5 separate regions of the Homo sapiens genome follow, and regions 1, 2, 3 and 4 are each linked to region 5. Evidence: fine-mapped expression QTL. A gene starts in region 5. Each other region holds a variant in brackets. All regions are shown on one strand. Distances are between the middles of the regions.

The links. PIP is the estimated chance that this variant, and not a neighbour inherited with it, causes the effect. A credible set is the group of variants that fine-mapping cannot tell apart.
Region 1: its variant is the best candidate, but not a certain one, in a credible set for the expression of CWF19L2 in anterior cingulate cortex (GTEx, PIP 0.52).
Region 2: its variant is the best candidate, but not a certain one, in a credible set for the expression of CWF19L2 in transverse colon (GTEx, PIP 0.60).
Region 3: its variant is the best candidate, but not a certain one, in a credible set for the expression of CWF19L2 in tibial nerve (GTEx, PIP 0.58).
Region 4: its variant is the best candidate, but not a certain one, in a credible set for the expression of CWF19L2 in fibroblasts (GTEx, PIP 0.59).

What each region holds. Positions count from the first base shown.
Region 1 is chr11:107,993,038-107,998,147 of GRCh38, reverse strand. No RefSeq gene overlaps it. Among named protein-coding and RNA genes, the nearest start is that of CUL5, 13 kb to the left of the region's middle. The variant T/A (reference allele first, on the strand shown) is at 2,940.
Region 2 is chr11:107,332,968-107,338,077 of GRCh38, reverse strand. It overlaps CWF19L2 (CWF19 like cell cycle control factor 2), which reads left to right. Exons shown (of 18, transcript NM_152434.3): 15 at 1,365-1,520; 16 at 3,117-3,197. Among named protein-coding and RNA genes, the nearest start is that of CWF19L2, 120 kb to the left of the region's middle. The variant C/T (reference allele first, on the strand shown) is at 1,996.
Region 3 is chr11:107,406,724-107,411,833 of GRCh38, reverse strand. The region is part of intron 10 of CWF19L2 (CWF19 like cell cycle control factor 2); the gene reads left to right. Among named protein-coding and RNA genes, the nearest start is that of CWF19L2, 49 kb to the left of the region's middle. The variant G/A (reference allele first, on the strand shown) is at 3,023.
Region 4 is chr11:107,423,390-107,428,499 of GRCh38, reverse strand. All of the region lies in intron 8 of CWF19L2 (CWF19 like cell cycle control factor 2), which reads left to right. Among named protein-coding and RNA genes, the nearest start is that of CWF19L2, 32 kb to the left of the region's middle. The variant A/G (reference allele first, on the strand shown) is at 3,072.
Region 5 is chr11:107,455,136-107,460,245 of GRCh38, reverse strand. CWF19L2 (CWF19 like cell cycle control factor 2) reads left to right here and starts at 2,421. Exons shown (of 18, transcript NM_152434.3): 1 at 2,421-2,534; 2 at 4,470-4,580. The coding sequence starts at 2,430. RefSeq lists an enhancer at 2,137-2,642.

The DNA.
Region 1 (5,110 bases), 540 kb before region 5:
ACTCAAGTTATCCACCACCTTGGCTTCCCAAAGTGCTGAGATTACAGGAGTGAGCCACCACACCAGGCCCCAGCTGGTCATTTTTCCCTCTCTTTTGTTTGAATAGAACTTGTGCATTCTGTCATAGGTGGACTGGCTGGAGAACCACAGACCTCCCTTCAATTCTTGAAACTTAGAAGGGACGATAGCCTGAATCTTCCCACTAGGTATACACAATCAACTCAGACTAGCAGGAACAGCCTGTTACATTCACCTCTAATATGAAATTAATTCTGCCAAATTAATCTGCATATTCAATAAAATTTCAATATAATACTTCAATCATTTTTTTAACAGAAACTTGACAAGACAATTGAAAATGTATTAGGGAGATAAAATGTGGAAGGACATACTAAGATATGGGCTTAAAAAAATGTTGAAGAAGGCCAGGCTTGATGGCTCATGCCTGTAATCCCAGCACTTTGGGAGGCCGAGGCAGGAGGATCACTTGAGACCATCCTGGGCAATGTGGTGAAACCCCATCTATACAAAAAAATACAAAAAAATTAGCCAAGCATGTTGGCGGGTGCCTGTGGTCCCAGCTACTTGGGGGGCTGAGGCCAGAGGATAGCTGGAGCCCAGGAGGTGGAGGTTGCTGTGAGCCAAGATCACACCTCTGCACTCCAGCCTGAGTGACAGAGCAAGACCCTGTTTCCAAAATAAATAAATAAATAATAAATTTAGTGACTTAAAACAATACAAGCTTATTCTCTTATAGTTCTGGAGGTCAGAAGGCTAAAATCAAGGTGTCAGCAGGACTGCACTCCTTCTAAAGGTTTCAGGAAAAATGTGTTCCTTGCCTTGTCCAGCCTCTAGAAGCTGCCCAAATTCCTTGGCTGGTGGCTCCTTTCTCCATCTTCAAAGCCAGCAGTGTAGCATCTTCTGTCTTTGATCTGCTCCCCTCTACTTCCATTTACACGTGGTCTTTTTTTTTTTTAACTTTAACCTTCGTGCCTTCCTCTTATAAGGACACTTGTGATTATATTGTGGCCATCTGGAAAAGGTTAAACTCCCCATCCCAAGATCCTTAACTTGATCACAACATCTGCAAAGTCTCTTTTGCTGTGTAAGGTAACATGTTCACAAATTCTGGAAATTAGGATGTGGTCATCTTTAGGGGGCCATTGTTTGTCTTCTACACATACCAGCAACTCATAGTCACTCTTATTTCATGTATACTCCAACCCACTTGTAATCAATAGCGTATCATTTCATTCATACACATTTTAGTATGTATTTCTAAAGGATAAGAGCTCTTTAGAAAAATAATACCATTATCACACCAAAAAGCTAACAATAATGTTTTAATATCACTGTTTAGTATTCCAATTTCCCTGACTGTCACATCATTCCTTTATTTTTTGGAGACAGGGTCGTGCTCGGTTGCCCAGGCTGGAGTGCAGTGGTGTGATCATAGCTCACTGCAGCCCCACTTTCCTAGGCTCAAGTGATCCACTTGCCTCAGCCTCCCAAGTAGCTAGGACTACAGGCACATTCCACCACTCCCAGCTAATTTTTGTATTTTTTGTGGAGATGGGGTCTCACTATGTTGCCCAGGCTCAACTCCTGGACTCAAGCAATGTTCCCACCTTGGTCTCCCAAAGTGCTGGGATTACAGGTGTGAGCCACCATGCCCAGCCACATAAATCTTTTCTGTGGTTGAATCAGGAACATATGATCAACACAATATAGGTGGTTGATATATCCCTTAAGTCTTTCTAATTCATAATCTTCTAAGATGGACACTGAGATACCCCACTCTGATCATCCCTCTGTGAAAGACTTATTGCCCCAGATTCTGGCAGTGCTGTTGACAGGCAACATTCAGCTAGCAGTTTCCTCAGGGATTGCCTCAGTGGCAGAGAGCCACGTTACCCAAGGCCACACCCTTTCTGTGTGATAAGAAAGCCAAACAGCCTTATTGCTGATATGGAGGAAGTTTTAGAGGTCTGGATACAAGATCCAAGCAACCACAACGTTCCCTTAAGCCAAAGCCTAATCCAGAGCAAGGCCCTAACACTCTTCGATTTTATGAAGGCTGAGAGGAAGCTGCAAAAAAAAAGTTTGAAGCTAGCATAGTTGGGATCATGAGGTGTAAGGAAAGAAGCTGTCGCCGTAACTTAAAAGTGCAGGGTGAAGTAGCAAATGCTTATGTAGAAGCTGCAGCAAGTTATCTAGAAGATCTAGCTAAGATGACTGATGAAGGTGACTGTGATAAACAATTTTCAATGTAGACAAAATAGCCTTCTTTTGGAAGAAGTTGCCATTTAGAACTTTCATAGCTAGAGAAGTCAATGCCTGGCTTCAAAGCTTCAAAGGACAGGCTGACTTTCCTGTTAGAAGCTAATGCTGCTGGTGATTTTAAGTTAAAGTCAGTACTTATTTACCATTCAGAAAATCCAAGGGCCCTTAAGAATTATGTTAAATTGGCTGGGTGCAATGGCTTACGCCTACAATCCCAGTACTTTGGCGAGGTTGCAGTGAGCCGAGATTGCAGAGATCGCATCACTGCACTCCAGCCTGGGTGACAGAGCAAGACTCCATCTCAAAAAAAAAAAAAAAAAAGAAAAGGATTATGTTAAATCTACTCTGCCTGTGCTCCAGAAATGGAACAATAAAGCCTAGACAAAGCACATATGTTTGTGGCATTGTTTACTGTTTTAAGCCCATTGTTGAGACCCACTGCTCAGAAAAAAAGATTTCTTTCAAAATGCTACAGTTCATCAAAAATGCTTCAAGAGCTCTGACAGAGATGAACAGAGATGAATGTTGTTTTCATGCCTGCTAGCTCACATCCATTCTGCAGCCCATGGATCAAGGAGTCATTTTGACTTTCAGGTCTTATTACTTAAGGAATACATTTCCTAAAGCTGTAACTGCCATAGCTGGCAATTCCTCTG[T/A]CAGATCTTGGCAGAATAAATCAAAAACCTTCTGGAAAGGATTCACCAGTCTAGATGACATTAAGGACATTTGTGATTCATGGCAGGAGGTCAAAATAGCAACATTAACAGGAGTTTGAAGGAAGTTGATTCCAGCCCTCATGGATGACTTTGAGGTGTTCAAGCCTTCAGTGGAGGAAGTAACTGCAGATGGGATGGAAAAAACAAGAGAACTACAATTAGAAGTGGAGCCTGAAGATGGGACTGAATTGCTGCAATCTCATGATCAAACTTGAATGCATGAGGAGTTGCTTCTTATGGATGAGCAGAGAAAAGTGATTTCTTGAGATGGAATCTACTCCTGGTGAAGATGCTGAATCCTTCATTGTTGAAATGACAATGAAGGATTTAGAATATCATATAAACTTAGTTAATAAAGCAACAGCAGGGTTTGAGAGGATTGACTCTGATTTTGAAAGAAGTTCTACGGTGGATAAAATGCTATCAAACAACATGGCATGCCTCAGAGAAATCTTTCATGAAAGGAAGAGTCAACTGATGCAGCAAACTTCACCATAGTCTTATTTTAAGAAATTGCCACAGCCACCCCAACCTTCAACAATCACCACCATGATCAGTCAGCAGCCATCAACTTCCAGGCAAGACCCTCCACCAGCAAAAAGACTATGGTTTGCTGAAAGGTTAGGTTCATTAGCATTTTTTTCACAACATTTTAGATTAAGGTATGTACATTATTTTTTCAAACATAGTGCTATTGCACACTTAATAGACTACAGTAGAGTAAAAACATAACTTTTATATATACAGTGGGAAACAAACAAAAAATTCTGTTACAGAAGGTGCAGGATTGGAAAACAAAAAAACAAAAAAAGCCTGGATTCAGTAGCTCATGCCATAATCCTAGCACTTTGGGAGGCCAAGGTGGGCAGATCACTTGAGCCAGGAGTTCGAGACTAGCCTGGGTAATTTGATGAAACTTTACCTCTACAAAAAATACAAAAATTAGCCAGGCTTGGTGGCACATGCCTGTAGTCCCAGCTACTTGGTAGGCTGAGGTGGGAGGATCGCTTGAGCCTGAGAGGTTGAGGCTGCAGTGAGCCAAGACTAGCACCACTGCACTCCAGCCTGGGTAACAGCTCAAGACCCTGCCTCAAACACAAAAACAAAAAACAAAAAAAGGAAAAAAGGCCAGGTGCGGTGGCTCACGCCTGTAATCCCAGCACTTTGGGAGGCAAAGGCAGGTGGATCACTTGAGGTCAGGAGTTCCAGACCAGCCTGGTCAACATGGTGAAACTTCATCTCTACTAAAAGTACAAAAATTAGCTAGTAGTCCCAACTACTCTGGAGGCTGAGACAGGAGAATTGCTTGAACACGGGAAGCAGAGGTTGCAGTGAGCCGAGACTGTGCCATTGCATTCCAGCCTGAGCAACAGAGCGAGACTTCGTCTCAAAAAAACAAACAAAAAAAATTTTGTGACCCACTTTATTGCAACAATCTGCAACTGAACCTGCAATATCTCTGAGGTGGGCCTGTATAACCCAGTTAAAAATGTGCTGGGCTTGATAAGGGAGGAAAGAGACTGTATTCCAAAAAGAGCTATAGGACTGCCAATATGTGCTGGAGTATTGTGCATGCTATCGGTCTCTGAAGGTGTTTGATCAGCAGGCCAGAATATAAGGTTGAGTGAGGAAAATTTTATTGATTTTGGAGCTCTTTCATAGGATATTGGATTTAATGTTTTGGCAAGAACCCGAGGAGGTAGTGCCAACTTTCTCTGTTGATGCCTTCTAGAAACATAGAAAAGATGATGTCCACACTAACCGGAGTTAGATGCCAGATGCCAGAATTGTTGTGACAGGTGGGTTTTTCTTTTCTTTTTTTTTTAGATGGAGTTTTGCTCTTGTCTCCCAGGCTGGAGTGCAATGGCACGATGTCGGCTCACTGCAACCTCTGCTTGCTGGGTTCAAGTGATTCTCCTGCCTCAGCCTCCTGAGTAGCTGGGATTACAGTGGTGTGTCACCACACCTGGCTAATTTTATTTGTATTTTTAGTAGGGACATGGTTTCACCATGTTGGTCAGGCTGGTCTCAAACTCCTGACCTCAAGTGATCCCCCGACCTTAGCCTCCAAAGTGCTGGGATGACAGGCGTGAGCTACTGTTTCTGGCCTT
Region 2 (5,110 bases), 120 kb after region 5:
TCTAAAAATAAAAGGAGAAGAGAAAGTAAAAGGGTAACAGAAGATCTTTATGGACAGTGTTGGAATTGCTCTCAGTGTTGACTATATCAATGTCAATATCCTGGTTGTGATATTATAGTATAGTTTTATAAGATGTTACCTTGGGGAAACTGAGTAAAGCATACATGGGATCTCTCTGTATTATTTCTTATAACTACATGTGATCTGTAATTACCTCAAAACAAAATGTTTAAATAAAATATTAAAAAGTTATAAATCAAGCTGACAAATCTAAATAAAATACATTTTATCTTCCTACTTAAATATACTTTCATAAACTCTTACAAGGCCAACTTTAGTTTAAAATTCTTAGACAACTTGATCTTGAACTCCTGATCTCAGGTGACCTACCCACCTCGGCCTCCCAAAGTGCTGGGATTACAGGCATGAGCCACCGCGCTCATCCAGAATTCTTAGACAGCTTGAGGGGTTCACAGTAAGACATGGTGATGTGGACGGAGCTGGGCTCTGGCATCCAGCCTTCAGCCTGTTCCCCTTTCTTTCGATCCCTAGCTCCATCCTGTACTACAGGGGGTGTCATGTGAATGCATGCAGACATCCTGGACCACTCAGCTCTATTCAGTCACCCTCTACAAACAGCTGCCCTTTAGGCCTAGGAGTGTGAAATACACACACACACACACACACACACACACACACACACACACACAAAACACACACCTCCACAACTGATTATATTTGTGTGTATAGTTGTATAATAATACTTAGTTCCTTGGGAAGAGAAAACCCTATTACTTTTCAACTTTAGTGTATTTGGCTTTCATATGCTTTATAGGACTGCATTATATGTGAAAATAGAGGACTACCTGAATATACAAGGTTATTAGTGATGGGTCAGCAGACATAGGGAACCAACAAATGCAGATGCTATGAGCATAGGAAAACAATTGGAAGTGAATTCTCATGTATTTCTGAGTTTAAGGATGCCCATCTGCTCAGAGTATCTCTTTTGGCTTATGGATATTTTCCTATGATTGTTCTGTCAGTTCTGCATATTTTACCACCTAAATTTGATTTTTATCACTTCTTTCTCTCATTTTACTGAAACTATTTCTAATATATACATAGTGGGTTTCAGTTTTTTTAAAAGTCTTGCTTAAATATATGAAATTATATAGTAGATTTAGAAAGTAAAGTAACTATAACATTGCAGAGTTCAGATATTACTGTTTATTTTATTTATTTTTCATTTTAAAGGGATTTGTACTTTTTTATTAAAGTTTTCATATTTCAAATATCTTGAATATGCTTGATTTTGAATCTCCTTTAAGTGTTTTCTTTACCTAGTTCTTTTTTTTTTTTAGATGTTCAGAAAATCATTGGTAAAGATGTTTGAAGATAAAGGATTAGACTGCATTTTTTTGGAAACTAATATGAGCATGAAGAAACAGTATCACATGGTTTATGAATGTATTCCTCTTCCCAAGGAAGTGGGTGACATGGCTCCCATCTATTTTAAGGTGTTTATAAGTAGTCTTTGCATATACACTTATTTTTTGCTATAGTGCTATTTTACAAATATTGTTGTCTTTATTAACATATTTTTCTCCTATATACTTACATCAAAATTTATATAAAGAAATGAAATAGGCCGGGCACAGTGCCTCACTTGGAAGGCCAAGGTGGGGAGATCACCTGAGGTCAGGACTTCAAGACCAGCCTGGCCAACATGATAAAACCCCATCTTCACTAAAAATACAAAAATTAACTGGGCATGGTGGTGGGCACCTGTAGTCCCAGCTACTCAGGAGGCTGAGGCAGGAGAATCACTTCAACCCAGGAGGCGGAGGTTGCAGTAAGCTGTGATGGCACCACTGCACTCCAGCCTGGGTGACAGAGCCTGATCTTGGCTCACTGCAACTTCTGCCTCCTGGATTCAAGCAATTCTCCTGTCTCAGCCTCCTGAGTAGTTGGGACTACAGGCATGCACCACTA[C/T]GCCCAGCTAATTTTTTGTATTTTTAGTAGAGATGGGGTTTCACCATGTTGGCCAGGATGGTCTCGATCTCTTGACCTCGTGATCTGCCCGCCTCAGCCTCCCAAAGTGCTGGAATTATAGGCGTGAGCCACTGCACCTGGCCTACACTAAACCTTTTATGTGATCATTGAAGATGCTTTTATATTGAATGTGCTATATTACAGTGTCAAGCCAAGCAACTGGTGCCTTTTAAATAGGTAATAGCACTGTATCTGTTCTATTTAAATAGAACTTATTTGAATGTTATTTTATCTTTAAAATTTGCTTCATTAATAACAATACTGTAAAAACATGAGGTTATTTTATATTTATCACTCTGGCTTTTCTTTCTTTTAAATATTTCTTTACCATAAATAGTAGTCACATTGCTTAGCATAGGAAGTCTTACTCCATTTCTATGTATTTTCTCCCTACATTTTAAAAAATTCTTATTTTTTAAATTACAAATTGACAAATTATAGTTATATAAATTCTGACATCAAAAACATAAAATGTGTGAGGGGTAAATAAAAGCATTGAGTTGCATGCAATCAAAGTTAAGTTGCTATCTGCTTGAAATAGACTTATGCTTCCTGGACTTTTAAAAAATAGGCTTTATTTTCTAGAGCACATTTTTTTTCCTGTATTTTTACTTCTTCATTATATGAGCAGAAATAGTTCAAGACCTTGGTTGCTAGAAAACATGTAAATTACTCTGTTGCCTTTTGGAAGAAGAGCAGTAAAACTAAATGAATTTATTTAGTAATCTCTATGAATGCAGTGCTATAAATGGAACTTTATGATCACAAATTATGTTTCATATTAAATTGATTGGTCTTATTAAGGATTGCCATGTAAAGTTGAGCTCAAGTTAGTATAACAGTTAAGAATGAGTAAAAGAATATTATCTTTGGCTAATGGTAAGATTTCAAAAATTTAAGAAGTTCTTATTTTAAATAACTAAAAGCCTTAATCAGTTCAGAATAATGGCTTACTATGTATAATATACCCCATAATTAATTTGCTATATTACTTGTTATAAGCTGTTTCTTTTTATTTACTTACATGTTCTTTTTTCACTTAACAAATGGATATTTCTTAGAAAGCCATAATGGAATCTGATGAAGAGTGGTCCATGAACAAGAAGTTGATAGATCTCTCTTCAAAAGATATCAGAAAGTCTGTAAGTATGTTTTTTCCTGGTAAAAGAAATTACCCTAGTGCTCAGGATCTTTATTAATTTCCATGTCTTAGTTGACAAAGGGACCATTTGGTTGAGTGACTGAAGGCGAAATTACTAGTTCGACAAATGAAGTTATTTTTATCCTACCTGGTCTAGAAAATGCTTATTTGTTTGTAGAGGGTTTTTATTTGTTCACATGAATGTTTCTTCCTGACCTTTGGCCTTCTGCCACTGTAGTCCCTATAATTGGCTATGGCAGCTATTAGAGTCTGCCGTGAGAACTGCTGTGGTGAGCTTCTCAGCCCCTGTGGGACAAATGGTGAGAAGGGCCTTCCTGAAATATATTGTTCTGCAATTATACTGAGAGAAAAATTTTCCTAGATGTTCCATTTTGAATTTGGAACTCATTTTCTTTTTCTTATACAAAGGTTCACTATTATGTTCCTATAAAACTATAAAATAGTAGTTGAGTTAGATTGTGGGTTCTTTTGGAGACTTGCCTAATCATACCTCATAGTTTAATCTTTATTTGTAGATCAGCTTTTATGTACAAGTTACACTTAAGTTGAGCACGTCTGGTAATGATTTTTTCTCTTTTCTAGAAATACAAATTAAATGGAATGGAATAGAGATTTAATAGAAGTGTGGTTCGTTTTTGTTTTTCTATTCAAAAAGTAGTTTATTCTACAAATATTTATTGTGTGCCTGATATTTACCAGGCATTGTTCAAGATGCTTTTGGTACACAGTGGAACAAAACAGAAAGATTCCAGACTTGATGGAGATTATAGTCTAGTGCTGGGGTTGGCAACTCAAGCCCTGCATGCTAAACCCAGTCTTCTGCCTGTTTGTGTAAATGCACTTTTATTGGAACACAGCCACACTCATTTGCTTAGGTATTGCTTATGGCTGCTTTCATGGTACAAGGGCAGATTTGAGTAGTCCCTACAGAGAACGTATGACCTGCGAAGCCTAAAGTATTTTATTATGTGGTCCTTTTCAGAAAAAGTTTGCCAGTCCCTATTCTAGTAGGTGTCACTGGAATACTTCTCCCCCATTTCTTCTTTTGGAAAGCCAGACTCCTGTTACATGTCACGTAACTAATAGGATTCCTTATTACACTTATTATATTCCAGTCAAAAGATTCCATTTTATTACATTATTCAAGATACATAGTTTTATTTTAGAGGTACAACATTATCTACAATCATTTTCTCTTCTCTGCTGGTGAATTGGGCCAGACAACATATTAAAAAACAAAGTAAAACAAAACAAAAACTCTAAATGTACTGTTTACTTCTCTCCTTTTTGTGCCTATAGAAAAAGGCATTTAATGTACGTACATCTTTTGTGCTACGTTTTTCACTTCTCATGTTATAATTTCTCATGCTGTTAAGTATTCTTTCACAACATAGTTTTAATGACAGTTGAAAATATTTCAAAGGAGAAAAAAATTTGATTTATTAGTCCCCGTTTTCTATACTGTGTATACATTTTCTTACTGGTGAAATGTCTAGTATCTTATTATTTGTTTCTTTTTTAAAAGCTCCATGAGTACCTGAATTAAGTAGCCAGGAGGTCTTAATATTTTAACTTAACATTATGAAACATAAGAAACACAGATACTGTAAAAATGGCAGTTGTATATTCAGTTTTAAAGGATTTCAAAGATAGCAGCAATTGCCTTTATTAAGGCATCACATAGTATTGTATCTGAGACTAGCTGAGGGTTACAGTCAATGAAGGATGAGCCAGATGACCTCTTGAGATCCCTTTTACCTTTTTTTTTTTTTAGACAGAGTCTAGCTCTGTCGCCCAGTGACGATCACTCCACCTCCCAGGTTCAAGTGATTCTCCTGCGTCTGCCTCTTGAGTAGCTGGGAATACAGGAGCGCACCACCACGCCAGGCTAAT
Region 3 (5,110 bases), 48 kb after region 5:
TAAGAATCATAAGTACTCTTCTATTTTACTTTGATTATCATATATTCTAGAATAGAAAAACCAGTGTTTTTGATAATCAGGTTTTTAAAATATCCGAAGGGGCATTAAATGTATGAGAGCATAGGAAGGAATACTTAATTTTAATTAGTATATTTATTAAATTTATTAGCTTAAATAACCTGCCCTTCCTTAAGCATTAAATGCTCTTGGTAAATTTAGCAAATCACTCAATTATTTTAAGAAATAATCAGACTAAAATTCTTTACCATTTTCATGGTTAGCTTAATTAAATTATAAAATTTTAAGCTGTTATTAGTTTTGTATAGCTTATTCACTTAAGGGTTTCAAATACGTTCAAAAGACAAACACACATTCTTAAAAAGTTATAATGAACAAGTCATTATAAATGAACGTGAGTGCCATTAAAAATGTGTTTCCTGTGTTAAAGTGAAATAAATTTTATATCAAAAAAGGTTGCAGAGCTATTACTATACTTTTACTTAAACACAATATAAAAGGTTAAGTTTGATTTATTTCTTAATCTCAGAGTTGCAAAGTTACTTAACCATCTAAGGGAAATTAACTGTTTTAGGCAGGTTAAGGTCCTTCCATAGCAGGAGAGATCTTTATAGAATTAACAGAATAATGGGTCAGAAATTTGAGACTACTGTATGGGACCCTAACCAATAAGAATATACCTTGCTGTTTTATGATAGTGTGTGTGTGTGTGTGTGTGTGTGTGTGCACGCACGCGCGCACACACACACCACACTCTTATAAAAGCATAGACCTAAGCCTGAGATTTTTGTGTTACTTCTTGTAGTCAAGCTTTGCTGACCCTACCAAATAAATTGACCATTTTCTTCTCATTTTTTGACTAAGGTTTGCTATGTCCCACCAGATTTTATTTCATACACCTCCTAAAGTGAAGTGCTTTTTCCATTATTCTGTGCAGTTGTTTAATGTAAAGTCAGTTTTCAAAGTATCTTAGGCAAGCAAAAGGAGCCACATAGAGAAACCTTGCTTGAAATGTTAGAGCTGGTTTGCGGCTTGGAACAGAAGGAAAACATTTGAAGCAGGTATTCTGTTAAATAACATTTCTCCTACGGTTTTGAGGATATGACTGAATAATTGACAGGCTATATCTCATCCCTTGTGCACATGACTCTGATATTACTGATTGTTTTTTAAATTTCTAGCTCCTCCTATCTTTGAGCAGTGGACTTCAGTACTCAGTAGATTAGTATTCGAAGTATCATACGAAGTGTTATTTCTGCTTGTTAGTCCCTTTTGGGAACTGTATAGCCCTTTGAAACTTCAAATAGAAAGCTTTTTTTTCCCCTAAGGATTCTTTGACCAGAAAGGCATATTTTCATCTTCTCTGCAGAGAAGGTTCAAGCACACTTGCACATCTGGTTCAAGCTTTACTAAGTATATATATGTATAAAACAAATCTTTGCCAAAAATTCTGAAAGAATTCTCTACTGCAACTAAAGTAATTTATTCCATCAGATCCAGGGCCTTGATTACCTTTCAAAGTGGTTTTTTTTTAGAAATCAGAGTGGAATACAAAGTTGTTTACTACTATGGAGATTTGATGACGTTCTAGAGGAAAATCATGGAATACTTCTGATGGAAATTTTGCTCTTTGAGAGAAAAGAAAACCCCATGCATAGAACGCTTGAACAGCGAAGAATTCTTTCATTGCTTAGCTCGTTTGTTGGAAGTATTAAGTTACAGGAATAAGGTAAATCTCTTCATTCACATATCTATGAATACCATTTTGGCTTTAGTGAAAAACCATCAGCACTATTAATTATTAGTTTCCTTATCCCTCTTCTTTAGAGGGTGAACTATTTAGTATTTAGGACAAGGGTTATTCTTTCAGTTCATATCTAGTACATAGAGTAATACTTGACATCTTGTAGATGACCAAGACATACTGAAATACTTGTTTTATGAATGTCTTTAATTTATTTTATTCTCTGTAGTATTTTATTGTAAATCTTAAAAATGATCCATGATCTTTCACATCATCTAGTCTGGCCATCACACAAGTACAGCTTCTTTATTTTAACATTAAGCCCACCACATAGCTTCTCCATCTAACTTGTGCTTGAACACTGAGTGATGAGGTCTCACTGAGTTTTGGATATTGCTAGTTTTATATCAGGAAAAATCCAATCCTAATTCTTTAATATGTTAGTCCTAATCTGCCCTTCCATAACTTGTGCCTGTTAATAATCCTTCAATGGAGTCACATTATGTATACATTTAATCTAAAGGAATTTAGCTTTGTACTTTATAAGAAAAGATAACGCAGGAAATTAAGCTCAACATTTGTAACAAAGAATGAAATAATGTTTGCCTAATGGTGTAGTAGCTTTAAAGTTTTGTCTACACTGCTGATAAAGAGGAGAAATGCATTTTGGTCCCTTTGCATGTACGTAGAGGGGGTTTATGGACATTCTCTTTAAAGAAATTGAGGAATTAACTAAGGGCCATAGAGAAACATTAATAAATAAACAGATACATTCATCATTTTGTATATAAATCAGGTACTTGACTAGTTATTTGAAGTATTTCCAGTAGTAGTTTGACCATATTCAATTACTGCTTTAACACTGTCTTTTGGATCTGATTCTTGGGTGCATCGTTCACTGTGTTCACAAGTTCACTTGTCATTGGTGTGATTCCCAGAATATGTGAACTGTTAGACTGTGTCTTTTTTTTTTTTTAATGTTTTAGCATCCCAATCCCTGCAGTTGATCCCCTAAGCACAGTACAACAGAAAAAAAGTTACAAGACTATAAAAAACTTGCTTGTGGTTTACTTTTAATATTTAAACAGTGAGGTTTGACCTTTACTCAATGAATACTTTGCAGTTCCTTCTTTGTAGAAGGCCTTTGCACTCTCAATTTTCTAGGTCAAATATTTTAAATCTAAAGTAAACATTATTGTAGCTTTGCATTTATTCTGTTTACCTTGCCATGTTACTGTAGGCACACTTTTCCTGAGGTAT[G/A]GTCTTGCTTGACACAGAGTAGGTATGCAAAAATATTATTTCCTTTTAGTCATTTAGCTAGTTTTTTCCCCAGCCAAGTAAAAAAGGTCAATGGATGTACCTATTTTCTATACAGTTCAGCTTGTATTTTTTAACCCTCCTTAAAGTATCTGTCATTTCTGTCCTGTGCAGTTAGAAATACCATCTTAGGCATTACTAGAGGGCTTATTTCTTGAAATAGAGTATTACTATAGGAGCAAATATTTTAAGAAAAAATAAATTAAAGAAAATGGTGTATAAATACAAACTAGTATTAGCATGCAGAATCTGTCTGTTCTCTAGTCTCATACCTCACATAAAATTCATCGTGAAATGGTGACAATTTTACCTGCTAAATATTTCTTAACCCTCCTCTTTGTTTTTTATATCTACCACACTAAGATGACCATCATCTCTTGTCTTGACCTCCTAAGTAGCTATTTTCCCTCCTGCCTCAGTGCCTTTACAGTCTTTCTTTGCCTAGAGTATTTTTCATGTAGTTACCTTCTGTATATCCTTGAGATCTTAATTCAGACATCATATACTCCTTATAAAAGCTTTCTTTCAGGAAAGAGAACATACAAATAAGATTAATTATATAAATATATAATTACAGTCCTTTGACGGTCCTTCAAAGGAAAAGTATAGAAATATGGAGGTATTGAACAGGGCCTAGTGCAATCTGGGCATCCAGAGAATGTTCTGAGGCTATAGCCATTATTTTGGGATCCTGTTACCATTTTGTAACTTTGCCAAAGGAAAAGCTATTCTATTTATGACTACTATCTGTAAGCCTTATTTGTTTACCAGAAAAATAATCTTTAGCATGGTATTATCCTAGCTGGGAGTGTTGACCTGTAGGCTTCAGTCATGGAATAGGAAACACCCACTCATATGACTATAGGATGTATTTAATTCTCAATGCTTTCTGGGGTAGTTAAAAAATTTTTTTTATTGTGTTATGAACAGTATTTTCTCAGGTCTAATTTGGAGAAATTGTAGAGTAGTTGTTTTGGATAGTTATGATTATATATTTATTAATGATCTAATTTTGGGATGAAGAATTATGTCATAGACTATCTCAAACTTTGAACAGGGCTCTGTAACAGATACTGAAGCCACAACTAATTGATTTCCTTAGAGAGGGACCCAGCAGCAGCCTCTCTCCTTCCTCAGTTTGCTTCTATTCCCTCAAATGCTCATTATTTTTTTCTCACTAACTCTACTATTAGCATTTAATTCCCTTTTCTGTTGTTAAATTTAAGGGAAAAATGAAATATTACTGCATATGAAAAATACTGAGTCCTTATACTGTTCAGTAGCATTTGAGACTTAGGTTTTGTCTTGGACGGATGAATTCATATATGTTCTGTTTCCAGAATTTTTTTTTTTTGGTAGGGGGAAGGGTTAGATGGAGGGACGATGTCACATAATTATATATTTGCAGTTTAAAGGGAAAACATTTTAAGTGGAAAAAAAACAAACCCAAGGTAAGTTTTATCCTTGTACATGTTTTAAAATTAACCATATTGTAGACTGCATAACAGATTGTTGAAGATAGAAATCAAATTTAATGTGCTTTATAAAAACTGAAAATACAGTTTTCAATTTCATAGTGCATAAATATGCAGGTACCAAGAGGTTCTGACTAGAATAATTATAGTAGACAGTTGTTAATGAAGATTGATGAGGAAGAGAAAAAATTAGTTGAGTGAAACTCCAGAATACTGAAAAAAAGGAAAGAAAAGAAAAACACTTGCTATATCACAGTGAATCATAGAAAAATCTTATAATATTTATTATGGTCTTGTCTACTCAAAAATAGTAAATAATCTGTGTGTCATTCTTTAACAGAAAGTTAAGTTATAATTAATATAGCTATTTATTAATAATTAGTAATAATGTCTGTGGCATTAGCCAATAGTAACACAGAAGAGATAAGAGAGAACATAACAAAGAGTAGATACGATATACAAAGGATAGATTAAAAACTGAAATTACTAAAATAGAAAATAAAAAATAAATAGAAATGATTTTTTAAAAACCCAAGAGTTTATTCTTTGAAAAAAG
Region 4 (5,110 bases), 32 kb after region 5:
ATTTTGGTAGATTTTGTTACCAATGCCATTACTTTCTAAGGAAATTATCTTATTGTTGAGTATAATCATAATCATAAATACTGCATGTCTATAGGAAGTCTAGGAGACAAAAGGAAAACACGCTGCCACGGCCCAAATATAAAGTGACAAATACATGCCAGAGATCTTGCAGAGGGGAGCATGAATTATGGTTGTTATTTTGCACAAAGAAAGAAATAATCCACTTTGGGCAATTGACAGATTTTAAAGATAATATTAGAGTTTTAAATATAAAATATATGTTGCATTTATGTAGGGCTGGGTTAGAAGATGAGGAAACCCAGGTTGAATGGGACTAAACCTAAGAAAATTTGCTTTAGAAATTTGCTGGCCCTGTTGGAGATAGCCAGAAAAAAAAGTGTCCAAAGGGTAACAACTTACACGTGAATGATCATTAAAATATGTTTAAAAATAGCACCAAATGAGTGGGACACTAAAGGAAGAGGTTTTAGGAAATAATAGAAACACATGGTTGTAGTAGATAAAAGCACTGTGGTTTGGGGTTGTGAGTCTGATAAATCACTTTTGTTAATGACTCCATCTGAAGCAGTGGATTATAAAACTCAGTGTGTAATTTTCGGTGGGAGGGAGCTGGCAAAATCTGAACTGAGTGATTAAGCCCCAGTCAAATGGACTCTGGTTCACATCAGGGCTTTCCTCCCAGGAAGTGGAAGGAGAAATCCAATTGTATTGACTAAACAAACATGGCAGGGATTATTGTCTAAGGCTGTATGCATATGTAATTGTCCAGTCTTCACTCCAGGTGCCCTGGGTGGTAGACTATTTCCAGTTCCCAGTCACTAGGGGAATGAGGCTCTTATTTCCTGATATCATTAGGATTGGGTTAGCATTTGGATGATCTGTAGGCCTTCTTCTGTGACTGTAGCTAAGCAAAATGTCTGCAAAGTAATACCACACGATTAGTATTCCAACCGGTTGTCTGATTGCTGCATATTTGTATGTCTTATTTAAGTTGTAAGCTTCTGATAGATACACTATAATACAGGCACTCACTAAAAGCTGTGTATGTATATAATTTTTCGGTTTGAAGACAGCACTCACTAAAAGCTATATATGTGTGTATATATATGTATGTATACATGTAATTTTTCCTTTGAAGACAGTATTCTTTGTTCGCTGTGTTAATTTGATGGTACAGAGGGTTTGAGGCTTTCTATGAATTCTGTGACTGGCTGGAGAGGGAAAGAAAAATCTAGGAATCATCCAAAAAAAAAGATTCCTGAGAATGTAGAGTGGTTGTAAAGTAGGAGACCAAGACAGGACCTTGAAGAATGCCTAGTTGTTACAAATAATCTTTGTCTTATAAGTGAATGGTCATGATTGGAAAAATTAGTTGAATTAGTTTTTACTTCTTTGTATGTATTGTTCATATATCTTTACCTTTCTTGTTATTTACACCAGTATTATTTTTTAGAACATGCCATTTGTAATCTTAATAAATGTATATGTATAAAATTTAAACAATATAGACAGAAGAGTATAAAACAAGAATATGAAGCATAGGTGAGTATAAAATGAAAAAGTAAATCTCCCTTTCATGTCACTTCCAACCCTAATCCTATTTGCCAGGTTAACAGTGTTGGTAGTGTCTTTCCAAATTTTTTAGTGTATTTGAAAATGTGTAATATATATATTTAACTTAATGTATAAAATTTTATAAAAACATAACTTATATATTTAATATATGTAAGTTAAATAGCTCTACAATGCATATACCATTCAAAATCTTGGTTTTTTTTCCCAATAAGTATATCTTAAAGATCTTTTTACTTTAGCCCATATGTACCTACATTTTTTTATTTTAAAGGCTCTTTAATACTCCATTGTAAAACTTAGGCATAACCTAATATTTTTCACTGGTTTCCTATTGATGGAATTTTAGGTTGTTTCCACTTTGTTGCTCTAAGAAACAATTCCGCATTTAATTTTTTGTGAGTATCTTTGCATGCTATTTAAATATAGCTGTAAAATAAATTCCAAGGAGTGGAACTGTCAGGTCAAAGAGTACATGCATTTTACTTTTTACATATTTTGCAGTATTAACCAATTTAGACTTTTATATTGCATTGGAATGACTTTTCTCCTACTTCTTGCTGATAGTATTATTGAACTTTTTAAATCTTTGCCATATGTGTAGTTGAGAAACAGACTCTTTGATTTTTATTTTTTTAAATATGAGTGAAGTTTGCCATATTTTTATGTGTTGTTTATTTGTATTTTTTTGTTAACTAGTCATATGTTTTGCCCTTTTTTTGAGCTATTGTTTGTTTGTGAGAGCTCTTTATATTTGTCATGTAATACAAATAGATTTTTCATCATTTGTAAATTTCCTTTCATTTTTCATTCTTTCTTTAATGTGTTCAAATTTATCACTCTTTTTCTTTATTCATTTTAGGCCCTGCGATTATGTTAACTAGCAGAAAAACGTCCACTGCCATGCAATTGAGAACCTTGAGCTTTTTATTATTAGAAATGAAATGTGCTTTTGCATATATTTTTCTTGTGTTAGAAAATATATTGGCTAAGTATTTCCAGGAATTTAAAACTTAGAGGAGTATGTAATGTGAACAAAAATTAATGAGAAGTCCTTAATTTTGGTTTTACAAATTTAATATCAGAAACTAACCCATTTTATATAATATTTTAACCTTTGGATGTCATTCTTGGCAGAGTTTGTTACTGTAGCCCAGAAGGGCAAGCAAAGGATGCTAGATTCTGAAGGCTTTGAGTATAGTTGTGAGATCTTTAAGCAAGGAAGCAAATATGAGAGCAGCTGGTAAATAAGGGAGATCTGTGAACACTGCCAGCACAAGAATAATAAAATTATATGTGGCTTAACAGTGGGGATATATTCTGAGAAATTGTCATTAGGCAGATTCATTATTAGGTGATGTCATTGTGTGGACAGCGTAGTGTGTACTTAAGCTTAGTGCATACCTACACTATATGGTACAGCCTGTTGCCTCTAGGCTGCAAAGTAGAACATGTTACTGTATTGAGCATTGTTGGCA[A/G]TTGTAACACAATGATAAGTATTTGTGTATCTAAACATAACATAGAAAAGGTCCAGTAATAATACAGCATTATAATCTTACGGGATTACTGTCATGTGGTCTGTCGTTGAGTGAAACGTCGTTATGCTATGCATGACTAATTTCAGGTTTTAAAAATGTTACTGGGCTAGAGCTCTTTTAGTTACTTATTTCTCAAAGGTTTTCAACCTCTTTGTGTGTGTGTGTGTGTGTGTGTGTGTGTGTGTGTGTTTCAAAGAGAGTACATTTTAATGTGAAAATAGGATTTGCTTTTTAGAAATTAATTATAAAAAGGACTTCTGAAATATAGCAGTAATTCTTGAAATTGAGACATGTTTGGGCTTTTTTTCTTTTTGCAGGATAATTGCAGGTGTCATGGTGATGTTTCTTTCAAAGCATTTGCTCATCATTATAAACACTTGGGGAAAGAAAGGAAGAGCCCATTCCCTGATGTTTGCTGTAGAACAGTGTCTTTGCTGTGGTGTTCACAAAATAAAATAGAATAATATTTTCTTCAGTTACTTTGTGCTCAACAACTTTCATTTAAATGTCTTTACTTGACACCTATTACTGTTACATTGTGTTCAAGTAACTTAATGTTGAAATTACTACTATAAAAGATGTTCAGAATTCTTGTATATTTTTGTCATTTATCCTCATCTACTAATAAACAATTTAATTCTTGTTAGAAAATACTAAAAAAATTGTGTGGAGCATTCCATTTCATGACAATGGAAATCACCTCTTTTAAAGATCTATTGAGATTCTAGTTATCTTCTGGAACTCGTGGGCTTTAGATGCACTTCAGCCTACCTTCATTGCCCTTCCTTGATTGAATATCTAAACTTTTATCCTGGGAAGTGAGGGGAAGAGGAAAGTAAAATGACAAAGATGTGCGCTTTGGATGGATAATAACAAACTTCTTTGGCTACTTAATCCGGGCTTTTTTTTTTTTATTATAAAAGGGTGTATAGAAGCCAGATTTTAGTAGACTAAATTATTAAGAGTTATGGAATGGTAGAGATAGAAAGTGTATTTATACTAGAACATGTTTATATTTAATGGAAAAGAGTCAGTATCCTTTTTAGAAGAAGCAAGACAGCTAGGCAGATGATAGATGGGGCAACTGAGCAAGATCCCTGAGGTTAGTATGGGTGAGTGTGGGGTCCATTTCAGTTATAAAAGTAGAAGGATTAGCTTTGGGTGGAGATAGTTAAAAAAAAAAAAGAGGGAAATGTGGCTACAGATTGTGGGTGACAAGGGAGAAATTTGAGGAATTATTTCTTAATGACTTAATGCCAGTATTTTTTTGACATATGATTCCCAGAATATTGGTGATCCCCTTGATCTATATATGGAGAGTCAGTTATGATTGGTATTGGTATTATAAAGAAACAACTTCTAGTTCTTCATGAGAAGCTCACATTAGAAACTGAGAATTTGATTAGTACCCTGTTTTTAGGTATTTATACTTTTTTTTTTTGCTCATATATATTAGTAGGTATCTATTGTCATATTGACATTTGATGTAGTCGTTTGTGTTAATAATCCTCAAACATTTCTCCTCAAGAGAAGGAGATGGATTGATGGATGGCTTGGTCTTTAATTCTTCTGATCCTGTCAGACTTAAGGTTGCTTGCAAGATGACTTATTTCTGGATATGGAGCTCAATAGGAGATTATGTGTGGACTTGTTCTACATCTGGTTTATAGTAAGCATCTATTGGAATAACAGAAAGGATTGTAGAAATACTGCGTAAATAGCTTCGTTATCCTAAAGAACCTTTCTTTGGTTCTTTGGTTTCTTAGTTGGCCGATGTTGAGATGAGAAATGGAGGAACTAGACATAACTTTAGTTGGAAAGAAAAACCTGGTCAGGTACAAATGGCAGAAGGAAAAGAAGCCAAGAAGTTTCTCACTTAGGAAACAAGAATTTGAGAGACAGACCCTGGAGAAAGCGACTTCATAGGGGAATAATTGCACTGGTGCTCTTTAGAAAGGGCATGAACTGTGGTTATTTAA
Region 5 (5,110 bases):
AGGAAAAGAGGTACTTTACAGCAGAGAAGCTCTGCAGATGCCAGTTTATTTAAATGATCAGAATTAACATCACCTGTAATGGAACAAATGGAAATCATGCGCTACCCAACAGGATGCAGTAAGACCGCCTCACTTCTGTGATCGTCCTGCTTAAGAGGCCAAATTTGAATTTAATCACAAAAGAACCTCCGACAAACCCAAGTTGAGTGACATTCTATAACACAACTATCCTGCAATCTTCATGAAACTTTTGTAGTTAATTGTGATCATCTGACCTATTTCTGGATCATAGGATTTAAATGAAAGAAACTGAACTAGGCTTTAGGAAAAGCCATCATTTTTCTAATAAAAAATGAGGCCAGCTTAGCTAACAACGTTTACCCTTTGTCCTTTCTCTTTATTCTTGTTTATCAGATGCCGTGAACAGATGTGAAAGAATATGATACCCTGCTTGTGACTACAAATACTAAAGTCACAGACTGCAACAAAGCGAAAAAGGATAAACTATTTGGCTCCTTCAGCAATTGCACCAAGCCTGGACCAGTTACTTTTAGGCTCCTTGTTACGTTATCCTTTATTTGATTAAGCCATGTGACTGGATTCGCATTAGGTGTGGCCAAATGCAAACCTAGCCAAAATAACCTGCTTTTTCTTTCTTTTCTTTTCTTTTCTTTTTTCTATTTTAACATATCTAGTTCCCCTCTCTAACCCCAACTTTTTTTTGGGCAGTTTTATTTGTATTGCATGGTATTTACAAATTAATTGAGAAATGATTTTTTATGATGTTTTCTTCTTTAAGCACATAGTATACCTCTCCATTCGTTCTAGTCTTTTTGGGGAGCTTATGCAAGATTTTAAAGTTTTCTTCATATAACTTTGCACATTGCTCTAGACCGAATGTTTGTTTCCCCAAAATTCTTATGTTGAAATCTAATCCCCAATGTGCTGGTATATGGAGGTAGGGACTCTGGGAGGTGATTAGGTCATGAGAGCAGCACCCTCATGAATTCCTATAAAAGAAGTTCTAGAGAGATCCCTCTCCCTTTCCGCCATATGAGACACAGCAAAAATACTGCCCTCTAGGAACCAGGACACACCTTCACTAGACAGCAAATAGCCCAACACCTTGATTTTATCCAGCCTCCAGAACTGTAAGACATACTTGTTTGTTATTTATAAGCCATCCATTCTATAATATTTTGTTATAGCAGCCTGAACTGATTAAAACACACACGTTTCTAATATAATCACAGTTTATTTTTATTGAATTGATGCAAAACAGTGAAATGGATGTTTTTCTGAATTCCAAGAGAATCTGAAAAGACGTTGATGCTAGTTATGACAAATATCAGTCAATGTAGTCAGTTGATTAAATATTACAAGGTCGATTAGTAAATTACATTTTAAAATAAAATGAATACTTTCTATTGCATATCAAACAAGTAGGCATTGTGTGTTCAAGATTCAGACTCATAGAATGGTAGTGAATGTAAAAACTCTTGGAAAGCTTCTTGCAAACACACATTAAATTTTATGAAACCTGAAGAGAAAGAGTATTTACCTCAACCTGGCTTATGTTACTTATTTTTAGCGTCTTTAAGGTATCGTTTATAATTAATTCCCCAGCCTTCTTCTTCTTGTAAATGTAAGCTTAGTGTCTTATGTTCTCAAAGCACTTCATCACCTTAGAATGTCTTATTCTTCTGAACTTAAAAGTTTTATGTTTGGGCGATACATGCGTAAAACAAAACAAAGAAATCTCCGCAGAAATAAATAAGTAACTGTCCATTGTAATGAAAAATGCTTGGATGGATAAGTATGAGTAAATAATATGGGGTCAGAGGAAAAAATATAATGTAAACTTCTAACAAGTTAAGCACGGGTAAATTGTGAAGTGCAATGCAAAATTCACATGAGTGTTTCATATATTAAGTAAAATCCACCAAAACAAAACACTGAATCTTCAAGGCAATTCTGTCCTTCCTGCCAGCTGCCACTACCTTTCTGGCAGCCTCCCTTTATCCCATTCCTCCAGCACAGGGAAATGATGCTCTGGCGACAAAGGGTACTTCCGCAGAAAACTTTTGAGAGGTACCAACTTAACTTCCAAGAGCTTGTAACTTACTCCGGTGATTTTAAGACGAAATTGGTGAGAAAGCTGTTAATATAGTAAAAAGTGCATAATAAATATATACGGGTATTAATCCTGCTCACAATCGCACCCAACACCTGAAAGAATTAAACCCTCCAACACCCTTCGGGTCTTTAAAATCTGGGCTGCGGTAATCCGAGCCCTAAGCGACCTCAGATGTGCGCATGCCCTGTTGGTGGAGCCGTGCTCCTCCTTCCTCGGGTCCGGAAGTCCCGGTTTGTTTGTTAAATTACGACCGTCGTAAACTAGAATTTTCTTGCGGCTTCTTAGCTTTACGATGGCAACAAGTATGGCGGCTGCTAGTGGTAGATTTGAAAGTGCGAAGAGTATCGAAGAGCGGAAAGAACAGACCCGGAATGCCAGGGCCGAGGTGTTGCGCCAGGTACCTCTGTTTTGGGGCTTTTGTAGTTATTTATTGTTGTGGGAGTTGAGGGTTCCCGTAAGCTAGCCCACTCACCCCTTCCCTTACCTCGTCAGTACTGAATCTCACCTTAATTTGGGTGAGTTCTCCCTTTGCAATGCCGGTAAACCCTTTTGTAGCTACCGATTTTTTAGATGTTCTGGCAGGTGCCAGTTGCTAATTCTCTTTTCAGGCAGATCTGTCGCTTTTTCTCCAAGTTTCTTTACCTTTTAAGTTACCCATTCTTTACATTTCTATCACTCGGACTGCACACTTTGTAGGTCCCCTGCGGCTTGTAAGGACTCTGCCAGCATGTCTCGCAGCCTCAGTCATTGCTACTGCTGTATCTGAAATGAGATTTTCCTTTTTCGGAAACACATTCAAGTCACACTTGAATAGACTCAGTTTGACATTTCCTCCTCCTGTCTCTATTGGTATCAATTCCAGACTTACTGTAAGCTCTTACCAATCCAAACAAAAGTTAACACCAATCTCAGTATATTTAGCCTGTCACAAAAGATCGCGAAACATTGTATTTCTCACTAAACTTCAGATACATAGAGGTAACATACAAAGAATGGAGAAAGTAAGCTTCTGAATTATCTGACAATCTATTCAATATGTAAGAAGTGTGGCAATGAAAGAGAAAAGTTGCAGTTGGAGAGCAACAGAGAATTCAGTGAGGGTTTTTGTTTTTATTTAAGTTGGAAGAGTTTTAAACAAGTTTAAATGCAAATGAGAAGGAGCCAGCAGAGAAGAGGGAGAGGAGACTCTAAAGGGAAAATGACATAGTTTCAAAATTTGGCAAATAATTTGAGGGTGAAGCAGCCCCATTCTCCTTTAATCTCCAATTTTCTCACCCTGTTCTTTGGAGTCCATCATAAGCCCTGCTCTTTTCTCTGATATCGATTTTTCTGTTTGGTATATAACCATTGTATTCATCTTCTTGCCTACACCAAGAATTATTATATGCACCCAGGGAAAAGCTAGCTGCAGAATGTTGGACTACCTCTCCATGATTTTCCCTTTTCTGGAATATTAACTCTTCTAGTTCTTGTTGCTTCAGCAGTTCTCTGATATAAACCTTTAATAAATTATTTTTATATTTGATTAAAAAAAAAAAGAAAATGACTACAGCCAGGTTTTAAAGGGGAAGAGTGGGCGATTAGTCTTGGGTAGGTGAAATGTTGGTATTGTTTCGTAATTTCAACATATGTAATGTGTGTGTGTGGGTATATATATATTATTCATTCTTTTCTCTTTGGTATTTCCAGCAGTTTTTGGAGGGAGTAAGTTTCGTAAGTTGAGATAAATCTTATAGTAGAGATATGCATAGAATTTGAAAAGGACCAAACTGAGCTTTGGAGTTACAGGGAAAGAAAGAGGGCAGGAACGATTTCCTAGGAAAAACTTGCTTTGTTTGACTATCATTGAAGAATGGATAAAAATTACCAATATGATCCTTTCTTTATACAGAGATGATTCTTCCTGAGGCATTTTTGGGGCTGGGTATTGGGGCTACAGGCATTGCATATTGAAGGCGTGGAGGTCTAACTGTTGCAAAAGTCTTAAGGCAGTAGCCATGGGAATGGTGAAGGGAAAAGGGATTCCAAGTCATATTGAGCTAGGGAGCTTAGAGAGATGGGAGGGCCTGGACTCAGTCCCTGGATTCTCTCTGATTGGTAACTCAAATCACTGGAGATTGGAAATGCAGAAGGAGAGATTTTTGCTTTGTTTTGTTTATTTATTTATTTTTTTATTTTTTTACACTGGAGAAGCAAATCCCTGGCAAGGAATAGACATTCATTCATGAGTGGATATTTTTGTATAAAAATGACAGAGGTTTTTGTTTTCCTTTTTTTGTGAAACCCAGTTGGGTCAATTGCCAGTTTGTCTTTTTTTTTTCTTTGGTTGTAGGCTAAAGCCAATTTTGAAAAAGAAGAAAGGCGTAAAGAACTTAAGCGACTTCGGGGTGAGGATACATGGATGCTACCTGATGTGAATGAGAGAATTGAACAGTTCTCACAGGTGAATACTAACAGGTTTACGTGATGTAAGGATATCTGTCCTTTTTTGCACGTATTCAAGTTAATATTGGATGAATAATTTTATAGAATGTTTTCATAAGTTACAAAATGAATATCACATAGTTGGCATTGCTGAATAGTTTCATCTCTTTGGCAGAGGTAAGATATTGTAATATTTTGGACATTATGACTCAAGTTTTGTTATTTGAGTTTGGCTAGTAGAAGACAGCTTCAAATTTCTGGCCCACTATAGCAAGCTTATAGGCCTAAAAATTTATGCATTTTAAGCTTTATGTATTTATTTTATTTTATTTTTTTAGGTCTCAAGCCTGTTTTCCTATAATTTTTTTAAAAATTATTTTTAATTGACAAATAATAATTGTGTAAATTTATGGGTTAGAGTGTGATGGTTTGATCTATGTATACATTATAGAAAGATTCAGTCAAGCTAATGAACATATCCATCACCTCATCAACTTATTTTTTTGTGGTGAGAACGTTAAAAGTCTGTTCTTCAATGGCTTTGAAATA